Regions from separate parts of the Homo sapiens genome. Here region 2 is linked to region 1. Evidence: fine-mapped expression QTL. Tissue or cell type: whole blood. Region 1 holds a variant in brackets; the other region holds the start of a gene. All regions are shown on one strand. Distances are from middle to middle.

What was found. PIP is the estimated chance that this variant, and not a neighbour inherited with it, causes the effect.
Region 2: it holds the start of RAB33A, and the variant in region 1 is fine-mapped to the expression of RAB33A in whole blood (GTEx, PIP 0.95).

The regions. Positions count from the first base shown.
Region 1 is chrX:130,090,211-130,096,331 of GRCh38, forward strand. All of the region lies in intron 1 of ELF4 (E74 like ETS transcription factor 4), which reads right to left. Among named protein-coding and RNA genes, the nearest start is that of ELF4, 17 kb to the right of the region's middle. RefSeq lists a silencer at 1,475-1,524. The variant G/A (reference allele first, on the strand shown) is at 3,750.
Region 2 is chrX:130,169,397-130,175,517 of GRCh38, forward strand. It overlaps RAB33A (RAB33A, member RAS oncogene family), which reads left to right and starts at 2,566. Exons shown (of 2, transcript NM_004794.3): 1 at 2,566-2,924. The coding sequence starts at 2,667. RefSeq lists enhancers at 1,290-1,339, 2,149-3,103 and silencers at 1,720-1,779, 1,950-2,029.

The DNA of each region.
Region 1 (6,121 bases):
AAAAATACAAAAATTAGCCAGGTGTGGTGGCGCCCTCCTGTAGTCCCAGCTACTCAGGAGGCTGAAGCAGGAGAATTGCTTGAACCCGGGAGATGGAGGTTGCAGTGAGCCAAGATCACGCCACTGCACTCCAGCCTGGGCGACAGAGCAAGACTCTGTCTCAAAAAAAAAAAAGAAGAAGAAGAAGAAGAAGCCACACACATGCAGGGCACATTGAACCTTCACAGTGCCTTCCCCACCTCCACAGTGCCTTCCCCACCTCCACCTCCGTGCCTGTGTTCACACTGTCCCCCAGGCCTGACAGGCCCTTCTTCAACTTCTGCAAGCCCAATGCCCACAAGTCCTTCAAGATCTGAAGCAAATGTCACCTTCTTTTCAAAGCCTTCCCTGCTTCCTCCCCACCTGGCACACTCTCTCCTCCTCCTCATGACACCTTAGCTTTACTTCTTAGACCAAAGCAGGGGTTCATAAACTATGGCTCATGTGCCAAACCCAGCCCTGCGGTCCATTTTTAGACGGCCCATGAGCTAAGAATGGGTTTTACATTTTTTAATGATTGGGAAAAATCAAAAGAAAAATATTTCCTGACATATAGTGATTTTTTAATATATGTATTTTTTGAGACTGGGTTTTGATCTGTCACCCAGGTTGGAGTGCAGTGGCACAATCATGGCTCACTGTAACCTCTGTCTCCTAGGCTCAAGTAATCCTCCCGCCTCAGCCTCCCAAGTAGCTGGAACTACACGTGCACGCCACCGTGCCCGGCTAACTTTTTGTATTTTTTGTTGAGACAGGGTTTTGCCATGTTGTCCAGGTTGGTCTCAAATAAACTGGCTCAACCAATTCTTTGTAGGAAAGGTTTGCTGAATGCTGGACTAAAGGCTTCAGTGTGAATAAATTCACCAAGTTCATTTCTTTTTTAAAATTTATTTTAGGCCAGACACAGTGGCTCACTCCTATAATCCCTGTACTTTGGGAGGCCGAGGCGGGTGGATTACCTAAGGTCAGGAGTTTGAGACCAGCCTGGCCAACATGATGAAACCCCGTCTCTACTAAAAATACAAAAAATTAGTTGGGCATGGTTGTGGGCGCCTGTAATCCCAGCTACTCAGGAGGCTGAGGCAGGAGAATCGCTTGAACCCGGGAGGCAGAGGTGCAGTGAGCCGACATCGTGCCACTGCACTCCAGCCTGGGCAACAAGAGTGAAACTCCATCTCAAAAAAATATATATTTTTTCAAATTTGTATTTATTTATTTTTCAGAGATGGGGTCTTGCTATATTGCCCAGGCTGGTCTCCAAGTCCTGGCCTCAAGCCATCCTCACACCTCCACCTCCCAAAGTGCTGGGATTACAGGCGTGAGCCACCACACCCACCCCATCATGTTGATTTCTGAGAAGAATGTCACAGAGCACTTGGGGATGGAGGTGCCTGCAGGGAGGTGTGGGATGCCAAATACAACTCAGCAGATTCTCATCAGAAAGAAGGTCCTGGGCTGGGGTTAGGAGACGTGAGTTCTGCCCATGATGTGACCTCGAGCAGGTCACTTCTGCTTTGTGTGCCTCGGTTACCTCATCTGCACAATGAGGGGGTTGGACTGGGTGACCTAAGGGCCTGTCTAGCCCTATGACTTAGACAGGCAGTGATCAACTGCATTACCATCTCCCACAGTTCTTAGCAGGCATGGTCCTGATCATTTACCCTCAGAACAAAAGCTTACAGAAGGGTCCTCTGCCCAGCTGTGGTTTTCCGCTGCCCCCATGGGCCTCCCTCACTCCACACTCACCTGCCCTGCCCCACCCTTCCCGTCTGCTGACCTTTCTGCCCTCCTCTCGGAATTCCTCTCCTTGCAAAATGAAGATGGCCTCCTCTGAAAGAGCCCTCCCCTCCCTCCAGTCCGGTGGGCTAAAAGCCTCCACTTTTTTGGGAGGGAGACAGGGAAAGGACTCTCACCTCTCCCCAGCCTCCCAGGGCCCACAGCAGACAGGCAGTGGAGTAGGAGATAGGGCCAGCTCTCACCGCACCCCTGCTCTGCCAGCGGAAACAGCCCTTCTCTGCCACTTCCTGTCCCAGGGGTTTCAGCAGTTTCCCCTTCGGGGCCTGCTGGCCCTCCCAGCCCCGCCCCTGCCTCACACAGGTCAGGGAGTGCAGAGAGGGAAGGGCCCTGCGTGGTGAGTGGGGAGGATCCCTCACAGGAAGGCTGAGGAGACAGCTGTCTACACAAGGGGACGCCCCAGTGGCAGGTCTACCAGACTGCTTTGGGCTAGGAGCAGGTACAAGCGGATGCAGTACCTGGGAGGGAGATTGGGGCTCTCTTGCTACCACAAACCCTCTCCACAAACCCTCTCCTACTACCAGATGAGTAGAAATGACTTTATCACTTTACCTAGCTGTCACCTTGAGGGGTGGAGTGAGCCTGGCCTTAGAGGACTGGATAAAAAACTGGAATATAAATGCTGAGGTCAATGTCCAGGAAGGACTAGCCCAGGGTGGCTTCGAATGGAGGGACAGGTTTAATGAAGCAAGAGGATGAGAGGTTAGTTCACTGGGGCAGATGACATTGAAATCAATGTCACTTCGTAATTTTGCAGGGGCCTTGTCCCTAGCACCAATGGACACAGGCGACAACGGAGGGCAAAGTACAGTTGTCCCCTGGCATACTTGGGGATTGGTTCCAGGACCACCTGGGAATACCAAAATCCATGCACACTCAAGTCCCGCAGTTGGCCTGTGGAGCCCACAAATCCAAAAAGGTGGCCCTCCCTGTACTCAGGTTTCGAATCTTGAGAATACTGTTAAAAAAAAAAAAAATCCACATATAGGCCGGGTGTGATGGCTCATGCCTATAATTCCAGCATTTTGGGCCAAGGCAGGCAGATCACCTGAGGTCAGGAGTTCGAGACCAGCCTGGCCAACATGATGGCGTGGTGGCAGGCACTCTGTCCCCCAGGTTGGAGTGCAGTGGTGAGCCTATAATCCCAGCTACTTGGGAGGCTGAGGCAGGAGAATTGCTTGAACCCAGGAGGCGGAGGTTGCAGTGAGCCAAGATCGCGCCATTGCACTCCAGCCTGGGTGACAGAGCAAAACTCTGTCTCAGAAAAAAAAAAAAAAAATCCACATATAAAGTGGATCCGTGTGGTTTAAACCCATGTTGTTCAAGGGTCAACTGTATTATATCACATATGGGTCAAGGGTAGAGGCATTTTCTGGGTGATGTAGCAGGAAACTCTCACATTCCATGGTGGCTGATGACTTGGTGTGGTGACTTCCACTCTTAAGTACCTCCCAGGTGCTGTTGCAAGGTGGGGTTCCTAGCCGTAGGGCTGTGTGCCTGTGAGGTTATTGTGCAGGCAGGTGACCCACTCAGTGAGACCCTCCCAAGGCCATGGGTCAGAACAGCTGTAAGCAGCCTGAGGCTTTGGACCTCTCTGCCCAGTTGCCAGTCCTCCTGGGGACAGGCCAGAACTATGTGATGCTGGCTCTAGAAGCCTTGCTGCCTGGTTCGGGGGCCTCGTGGTGGATGGACACAATCACCTTGGCTTCCCCGTAGTGATATTGTTCCCTGAGGTTCAAGCAGCTGTGCAAGAAGCTAAGGGGATTCCTACAAATGATGGTTCTGGATGGGCCTGCAAAAAAAATGGCTGAGAAGGTGATCTTGATACCTCTCTCAGCTCGGGGCCATATTCTTGTATCTTTGGCCAAGAACCCTGCCCAGCCAGGCCTCCTGTCATGAGAGCAGGGGCCGGGCGT[G/A]GTGGCTCACACCTGTAATCCCAACACTTTGGGAGGACGAGGTGGGTGAATCACTTGAGGTCAGGAGTTCAAGACCAGCCTGGCCAACATGGAGGCACCCCGTCTCTACTAAAAATACAAAAATTGGCCGGGTGTGGTGGCTCACGCCTGTAATCTCAGACTTTGGAGGCCAAGGTGGGCGGATCATGAGGTCAGGTGGGCGGATCATGAGGTCAGGAGTTCGAGACCAGCCTGGTCAATATGGTGAAACTCCATCTCTACTGAAAATACAAATATTAGCCAGGCGTGGTGGTGCAAGCCTGTAGTCCCAGCTACTCGGGAGGCTGAGGCAGAAGAATCACTTGAACCCAGGAGGCAGAGGTTGCAGTGAGCCGAGATCACGCCACTGCACTCCAGCCTGGGTGACAGAGTGAGACTCCATCTCAAAAAAACAAAAACAAAACAAAACAAAACAAAAATTAGCCATGCATGGTGGCGGGCGCCTATAATCCCAGCTACTCGGGAGGCTAAGGCAGGAGAATCGCTTGAAACCCGGAGGCAGAGGTTGCAGTGAGCCAAGATCACGCCACTGCACTCCAGCCTGGGTGACAGAGGAGACTCCATCTCAAAAAAAAAAAAAGAGAGAGAGAGAGAGCAGGGTCCCACTTTTCCCTGTCCCCTCTCACTCTATGTCCCCCCTAGGACAAAGAGGAACCAGTTCCCTCCAGATAGGGCCCCGCCGCCCCTGAGGGGAGTACCTGCTTGTCCACTCCTGCAAGCTGGAGTGAATACGGCTTCACAGCTGGTAGGGAGAACGCCAAGGAAACCTTAGAAACAACATCTGGATGTGCACCTGGGCTTCTGCCAGCCCCTCCCTACATCTGCAGCACAAACCCAGGGCCAGGGTTTGGTTACAAGCCTGGCTCAAAGCTGGCGGCACGTGTTTGGGTGGAGGGGGTGGAAGCGCTTGAGGTTGGTGCCAGCTCAGGGTGAGCACTTGTGGGGTTGGCAGTGACCTGAGCTGCTGGTGGGCCGAGGGTGGTGGGTGTGGCCACTGTGGTCTCAGGCATGGCCTGCTGGGGGAGGGGCAGTGGGGCGTGGGTGCTTGTGTAAAGGTGGGCAAGATTTTCTTTTGCGCTCTCTGATACCACTTCAAGTTGCTCCCCCTGCTTCGGGAAAAGGAGGGCCAAACAGTAAAAATGACAAGATGACAGGGTGGTGTGCAGGGAAGGTGGCAGGGATGTGTAGTTCTGGGGTGCTACACCGTCCCTGCAAAGGAGCCAGTAAGTGGCAGAGCCGGGGTTTGAACCTAGCTTTATTTCCAACTACTACACACAATGAACTTTGTTTTCAGTGAAATCTGCTTTGGTAATAATTCTGTTTTAATAGTTTCATTTGAAAAACAGTAGAAGTGAGGCTCAGAGATTAGGTAACATGATCAAGGCCACCACTGCCCAAGAATGGAGGCAGAACTCAAACTGGGGCCGGTGTGACCTTGATCTTGAAGTCCCTGCTTTTTCCTCTGTCCATGCTAGCAACCATCTGCTAGGATCCCTAGCTCAAGGCTGGCTCACAGCTCTCCACTTCGAAGCCTCAGAGCCCCTGTGGGGCCGCTTCAACAGAGGCTTCCCAGGCTTGTGTCCCAAGCCCCTCAAGGACTCAATGTCAACCCAAGCTCCATCTAGTAAGTCAATTCTAACTTCCAATGGTGACCATGTGAGCTCCTGTGGCCAGCTGCGGAGAAGGAGTATTGTGGAGGGGGAGCCTTCCAGCTCTGATGATGTGGAGGCCGACTCTTCCTATAAGCTCTGCTGTTTCCAGAGAGTTCCTGGCTCCAGACCTCAAGTAGCCACAGCATGGTCCCTGCCCCATAAATATACACTTGCTCTTGGCTTACATATAATGTAAGTCTGGGCTCTTATCTTGGGGTGTTGGTTCACATGTTTATTCAAATATTTATGGAAAGTCAGCCTTGAACACCTCATAGGTGCCAGGCCCAGGGCCAGGGGACTAATCACGGGGCCCACCCTATTCTCTGTGGTAGAGTCTCTTTGTATCCAAATTCCCACTAAGCTCAGTAGCCCATCTGCCTAAACAATATTGCTGGGTGCTCCACCCCCTCAAAACATGTTTGTAGCAAGTTATCTTCAAAATTGAGGCCCAAGGGTTGGGAGAAAATGGGGAGTGAATACTAATGGGTATGGGATTTCTTTTGGGGGTGATGAAAATGTTTTGGGTTTTTTTTTGTTTTGTTTTGTTTTTGAGACAGAGTCTCACTCTGTCGCCCAGGCTGGAGTGCAGTAGCACGATCTCAGCTCACAGTAACCTCTGCCTCCCGGGTTCAAGTTATTCTCATGCCTTAGCCTCCCAAATAGCTGGGACTACAGGTGTGT
Region 2 (6,121 bases), 79 kb after region 1:
TCAGGTACCTATGAAAACAACTGCATGTATTTGAAAGTAATTTAATAATGCACAATTAACACAAAGGGCATTGTACAGTACATTTAATTTTTTTACAATAGGTACAATAAGGTAGTTTTCCTGTCCTTTTAATTAAAAATTATATTTTTATCTTTTTTCAAAAGCAATATATACTCATTGAATTAATTCCAAAAAATATAAGTGGAAATCCCCCAAAGTCTCACCCCACAGAAGTAACAGACACCTTTTATTAGGGCAAGAAGCCCATTTTGAGATATCATATTTTCAGAAATCAAAGTTTCTTCCTTACAAAAGTAGACTCAGTGACAAGTTTTTGCTAGAAGCTTACATTGAAATAATCTTATTATGTACATATGTTTTTTTAATATCTCTCAGGAAGTTAGCATTAATTCTAGCTGTGAATTGGCAAAGGGCAAAGCCCCTTTCTACTTTGTGTACAGGATGTACCTAATTAATAGTTACCCCTCTCCACCTTAAAGCTATTCTGTAGATAAAGATCATCAGGGGCATTAACTTCCAATACAGAGGGGAACGATCCAGCAAACTAGGCATCAGACTAATCAAAACCAAAAATACTGTACAATGATGATTGATACATAATACAATGAAAATTGGTATTCATAAGGATGATTTTGGATTAGCCAACTAAGAGGAAATCCTTATCTGGGTAGTTTTAATGCTGAGTAGTATAATGTAGGGTTTTAGAAATGGGCGACCCACATATATGATAAAAGGGTTAGCTGTAAATATATCTGCTAGCTCAGCTAATAAACTTATTAACTGGAAGATGCCATTCTGAGTAACTTGGACGTCCTTGAGTAGTCACATTCCAATTTGCTTTCAGGTATATCACTGATGCACTGAATTGTTTTTCTCTCAGCAGAAATGGATTTGGTCATGTTTGTCTCTTCCTGCAGCTCAACCTCCCAAATAAGATGGCAGCTCAACTGTGCTGTTTGAATCCCTGACCTTGATGGCATTAGCAATAACTCACGAGTCAGTGCTAGTGACATGTGTCAGTGTTACCTTAGCTTATGAAATATGTAGGGGGAGAGGTAAAGTCTTAAAAGAAACAAATGGGTGCACTTTATCGTATGTAAATTGTACCCCCAGTAAAGTCGATTTCAAACAAATTCTGAACCCGCGAATGACTTTAGGGAGAAGGAATACTGGTCTTGACCAAGATGTGTGTGATGATTAGTAAGCTTTGGGCAGCAGCCCCCTAATACTGTAAGGAGGTTGTGTTCATTTATCATCTTCCAAGCATAATCTAGGCTTCTGGCAAATTAGACCCAACCACTTTGTTCTACATTCAGCTGCAGGGGGAGGTGAACCCTCCTAGGGATTCCCAACTCCCTCTGAAACTCCAGCGTTCTGGAGGGACTTATGGTTATATGGAGGGCTTGGGAATGGAAGGCACTGTGGAGCTTATGCCATTGTCCCAAGATCCTCCACCTGGGCCAGTAATGGCTAGCCCCGTAAACAAAGTCCCCTTTTGCTGGAACTGCCACCACTAGCTTCCCCCCCTTCTCCTAGCCTCTGTGTGGCCCTCTCCCGCGGCGGGCCTTCCCCATTGGCCAGCCAAACACAACCGACTGCGGCAGCCAATAGGAGCCGCTCTCCTGAACATTCAGAGGATGGGTGCGCGTGGTGTGATAAGGGGATGTTGGCGCCTGGTACGCGCCCCCCTACATCTGGCAAGTCTGTAACAGAAACAGTTACACCCCCTACACACGCACACGCGTGCCCGCTGGCTCCCTCCTCTCAGCTGTACAGGCCCCGGACAACCCACTGCGTGTCTTGGCAGCGGCCTCCCAGGCTGCCTGGGGCCCGCGAGTGCACCTGCTCACTCATTAAGACAGAGCATCCCTTTATCCCAAGGCGCGGGTCGGGTAGAGGGTGGGGGTAGAGGGGACGGGGTAGCGGGGACCGGGAAGGCGCGGCTCAGCTGCCCGCTGCTCCCGAGGTGAAAGAGGTGCCTCCGCCCCCACCCCATCCCCGCAGAGTTGCGTTGCTCCAGGGAGGCCGAAGTGATCCAGTGATGTCTTAAGGTGCAGCTCTTTGTCCTCCCCAGCTGTGCTCCCTGCCCGCTGACCCCGTGCGCTCGAGCCAGTGGGGGTGGGGAGCCCGAAACCTATAACATAAACGGGGGCAAGGAGAAAGAAGTCTATCCCGGGGTGGCGTGTGCCGCTGTCCCCACCCCGTCTCTTTCCTCCTGAGGCTTCTTCCCTCGGGTCCGTCCCGGGAATGCAGGCAGGGGAGGGTGTGGGCCGAGGCGCGGCGGCGGCTGGAGCAGCGCGGTAGGGTCCTTCGCCAGAGCATCCGGTCCGAGGGCGCACACAGGCAGAAGGCTCGCGGCTCGTCCACTCTCCTCCCTCTCTCCTCCTCTCCCTGGCTTTTGTGTTGGTGCCTCCGAGCTGCAAGGAGGGTGCGCTGGAGGAGGAGGAGGGGGGCCCGGAGTGAGAGGCACCCCCTTCACGCGCGCGCGCGCACACGGTGCCGGCGCACGCACACACGGGCGGACACACACACACGCGCGCACACACACACGCACAGAGCTCGCTCGCCTCGAGCGCACGAACGTGGACGTTCTCTTTGTGTGGAGCCCTCAAGGGGGGTTGGGGCCCCGGTTCGGTCCGGGGGAGATGGCGCAGCCCATCCTGGGCCATGGGAGCCTGCAGCCCGCCTCGGCCGCTGGCCTGGCGTCCCTGGAGCTCGACTCGTCGCTGGACCAGTACGTGCAGATTCGCATCTTCAAAATAATCGTGATTGGGGACTCCAACGTGGGCAAGACCTGCCTGACCTTCCGCTTCTGCGGGGGTACCTTCCCAGACAAGACTGAAGCCACCATCGGCGTGGACTTCAGGGAGAAGACCGTGGAAATCGAGGGCGAGAAGATCAAGGTGATCCAGGGGGTCAGGTCCAGGAAGGGTGGGACCCGGGAGGGGACCTCGCCCGAGGCATAGCTCTAGCGGTTGTCGTCGTCCAGCGTCCAGCGCGTGGCGGTTTCGCCTCTTGCTGAGCCGAGGACCCTCGGCTCCTCCTCACCCCTTTTCACCTCTCTCAGCGGGGCCCCGTCCCCACTTCACTCAGTTTTTTAGGGCGGTTGAGAATGGGGTTGCATTCTTACCCTTAGCCCCTGCCTGACAGGTCCTGCCAGGAAAAGCATGTTGGATTCCCATCCATGACCCCTACCCCGAGCAGCGGCACCTGTGGGCAGAGGGAGGCAGGAGGCATCTGTGGGTCCTAGTCTCTGGGATGGATCCCAAAGCACTTTACACATCCTGATGTCTCTTCTACTGCTTGGGTGCCGATAGGCTGCAAAACCCCACTTTGGCTAAGCCTCAAGGCGTTAGAGGGAAGGAAATGATGGAAATCCATGGAGAATGAAAAAGCTGCTTTATTTTAAATTGCAGTTTATAGTTAAAAAATTAGGGCTGAGTTGAGATGGCGGTGGAGTGGGGTGGTTCTGGCAGAAAGCCATGAGCCCTTTTAAAGAAATTGAGGCAGGGTCCAGCCCTTCGTAATAGACAAAACTTGTTTTTTTGTAACAGCCCCCCTGGAATGATATCTTCTTTACTTGTCTGGGGCATCTAATACATGAACTGCTCCTTATTCATTCTGTTGGTATTGTCTTCAGGTCTTTGTAAAAATGCAGTGACTTAACCGAGGGCCAGGGGAATGTTCAATCCTCCCCCTCCATGAGTTTATGTAATAGGCTAAGTGCAAATATTCTTGTCTGACCATTTGTGCTCACCTTTAATTCAGAAAAGGTAGAAACCTGATATGACAGGAATATGTCAATGTGCAGGGGATGGCGGGAGGGAGGACATAACAAGGGCAACTTCTTGTGTCATGGGGAGCAGAGGGGGGCCTCTATAAAGGCACTGGGATCACTGAAGACAACTCCTCTAGGCTCACAGCTGGCCTTTCCTTGAGCGTATGGTTGGACCTTAGACAGAGTCAGGGGTGACAGTAAGCCTCCTTCTTGCTGGTCAAACTGCCAAAGTGACCACAAGGCCCCTCCTCTGAGTGACGTGGAGAGAAGGGCTGAGTAACTGATGAAACTGATGAAACACTTGAAACTGTGCGAGACTCCTGACTCCTTGATTATTAAAATGAACGTGTTCTAAAAATGGCTTCAGAAACTAGGCCAACTCACTAGATGTCAGGAAGATGGACAGCTCAGTACTGATAAGGGAGAGCCCCAGGGTAGGAAGATAGAACATTATTTTGAAATCGTGATCTTTTTTGCCCCTTGCATTTTGGAAGGGAAGTGCTACATTTCCTTTTAAAGTCAAAGGCGGTATCTGTCTCTGTCCTTTCCTGGGGCTGTTGACATTTGCTTGGTTAAGACTTCCTCTAGTGTGTCTAGCTTCTTTAATGTAAGGCTATAAGATTCTAGAATTTCTAAAACATGACTTTGTAATCCAAAGTAGAAATATCTTTACAGATGGGCTCTTAAACCTCAAAAACCTAATGCTCCCATTTGCTTAAAATCAAGTGCTACAGTGAGCCAAAGAGTTCCCTGGATTTAAAAGGTGGGAAATAAGTCCATCTGAAATTTAGATGGAAAAAATGAAGTGTTTGGGAATCTAAAGAAGGAGGGAGGAAGAAGCTAGAAAGTGAGGGATGACAGATGAACACGAGTGGAAGAGTCACCACCCAGTGGCCTTGAAGGAATTTTTAAACTATTCCTTCTCTTCTAACACCCCAGTACTTAGCCAAACTGGACTTTACAGTCTCTGGCAAAGATTCCAGACTTTTTCCCAGAGGGCAGAGCCTGTGACAGTGTGACTCACTAGAAACAGAGCTCAGCACAACACCACGTGCAGATAAGTGCTTAATACAGGCTTTTTTGGGGAAGATGATATTTTCAAGGGGACAAAGCCTTGTGACACTGCTCATGGAGGAGTCCTCTGAGGGCAGATTCCAAAGGAGCTCAGAGTGGCGTGTGGGAGTGGGGAGATGGTGACCCTGCTTCTTGTAAAGCTGCTGCAATCTCAGGACCATGCTGGCAGGCGAGAGACCAGCATGTCTGTGGGAAGATGGCAGAGCCTGGCGGCTAGCACGTGATCTAGATAAGAGAAGATTTGGCCTCGCACTCTGGCTAGCCTGAAGTTGTTCAAGGAATACATGCCAAAGCCATGCTTGGAGATGACTGCCAAGGGCTTCGTCCTTTGCGAGAGAGAGAAAAGTCCAGTGTGACAGTCCGAGGTCTGGCCTAGACCATGGCCAGCAATAGAAGGCTTTTGGGCTGTAACATACCAGCCCTTGGAGGAGAGTGGTAGAGAGGTCTCAGCCAGCTCTTCTCAGTCTAAGAGCAAGGGTGTGGCCTCTTCTGGGCTGCCTGCCTGTGTCCCGGGGTAGCACATACATGAACCCCTGCTAGGGACAACTGATTTGGTGTAGTTAGAGCCACACTGTAATTAATTATCAAGGCCATCCCTAGGGTATTGAAGCCCCATTTGCTGTCTCCAATCATTATGTTCCCCACCCTCACCCCATCAAAGCATTTACAATTGAGTCCTGATGAACTCAATTGTATGAACATCAAGAAAAGCCTCCAATGAGTAGGCAATAATAATAATAATAATAACAACTATGTATTGAATAAGCAAAGAGCCCAGGCTAGGCACTTTACATGCATTATCTTATTTACTCCTCACAGCAGCTTTATGAAATCAGCAGTATTGTTATCATTCCCATTTTATAGATAAGGAGACTGAGGCTAAGAGAGATGAAATAACCCAGTGGCACATGGATCTGAGCTTCAGCCTTTGACTCTTGAGCCCAAGCACTTCGCCACCTCACTATCCTACCTTTCCTGTTACAGGGCCACGATTTCAACCCAGATTCAGAGACCATGCCCTTTACCACTGCATTTCACTCTACAGGACAATATTCAGTCCCCTAGATTGGGGGAGTTTGACAGGGGGAGATAGAATGCCAGGCAGCCAGTCTTGCTCTTTCTTCTAGGCCAGGGACTTAGGGTTATAGCCCAAGGCCCCCAGGAGCCTTTCAGATGTCTCCTTCAATTTGTATCCAGGACACACAGAACTCAACTGGGTTTACTTTTTTTTTTTTTTTTTTTTTGAGA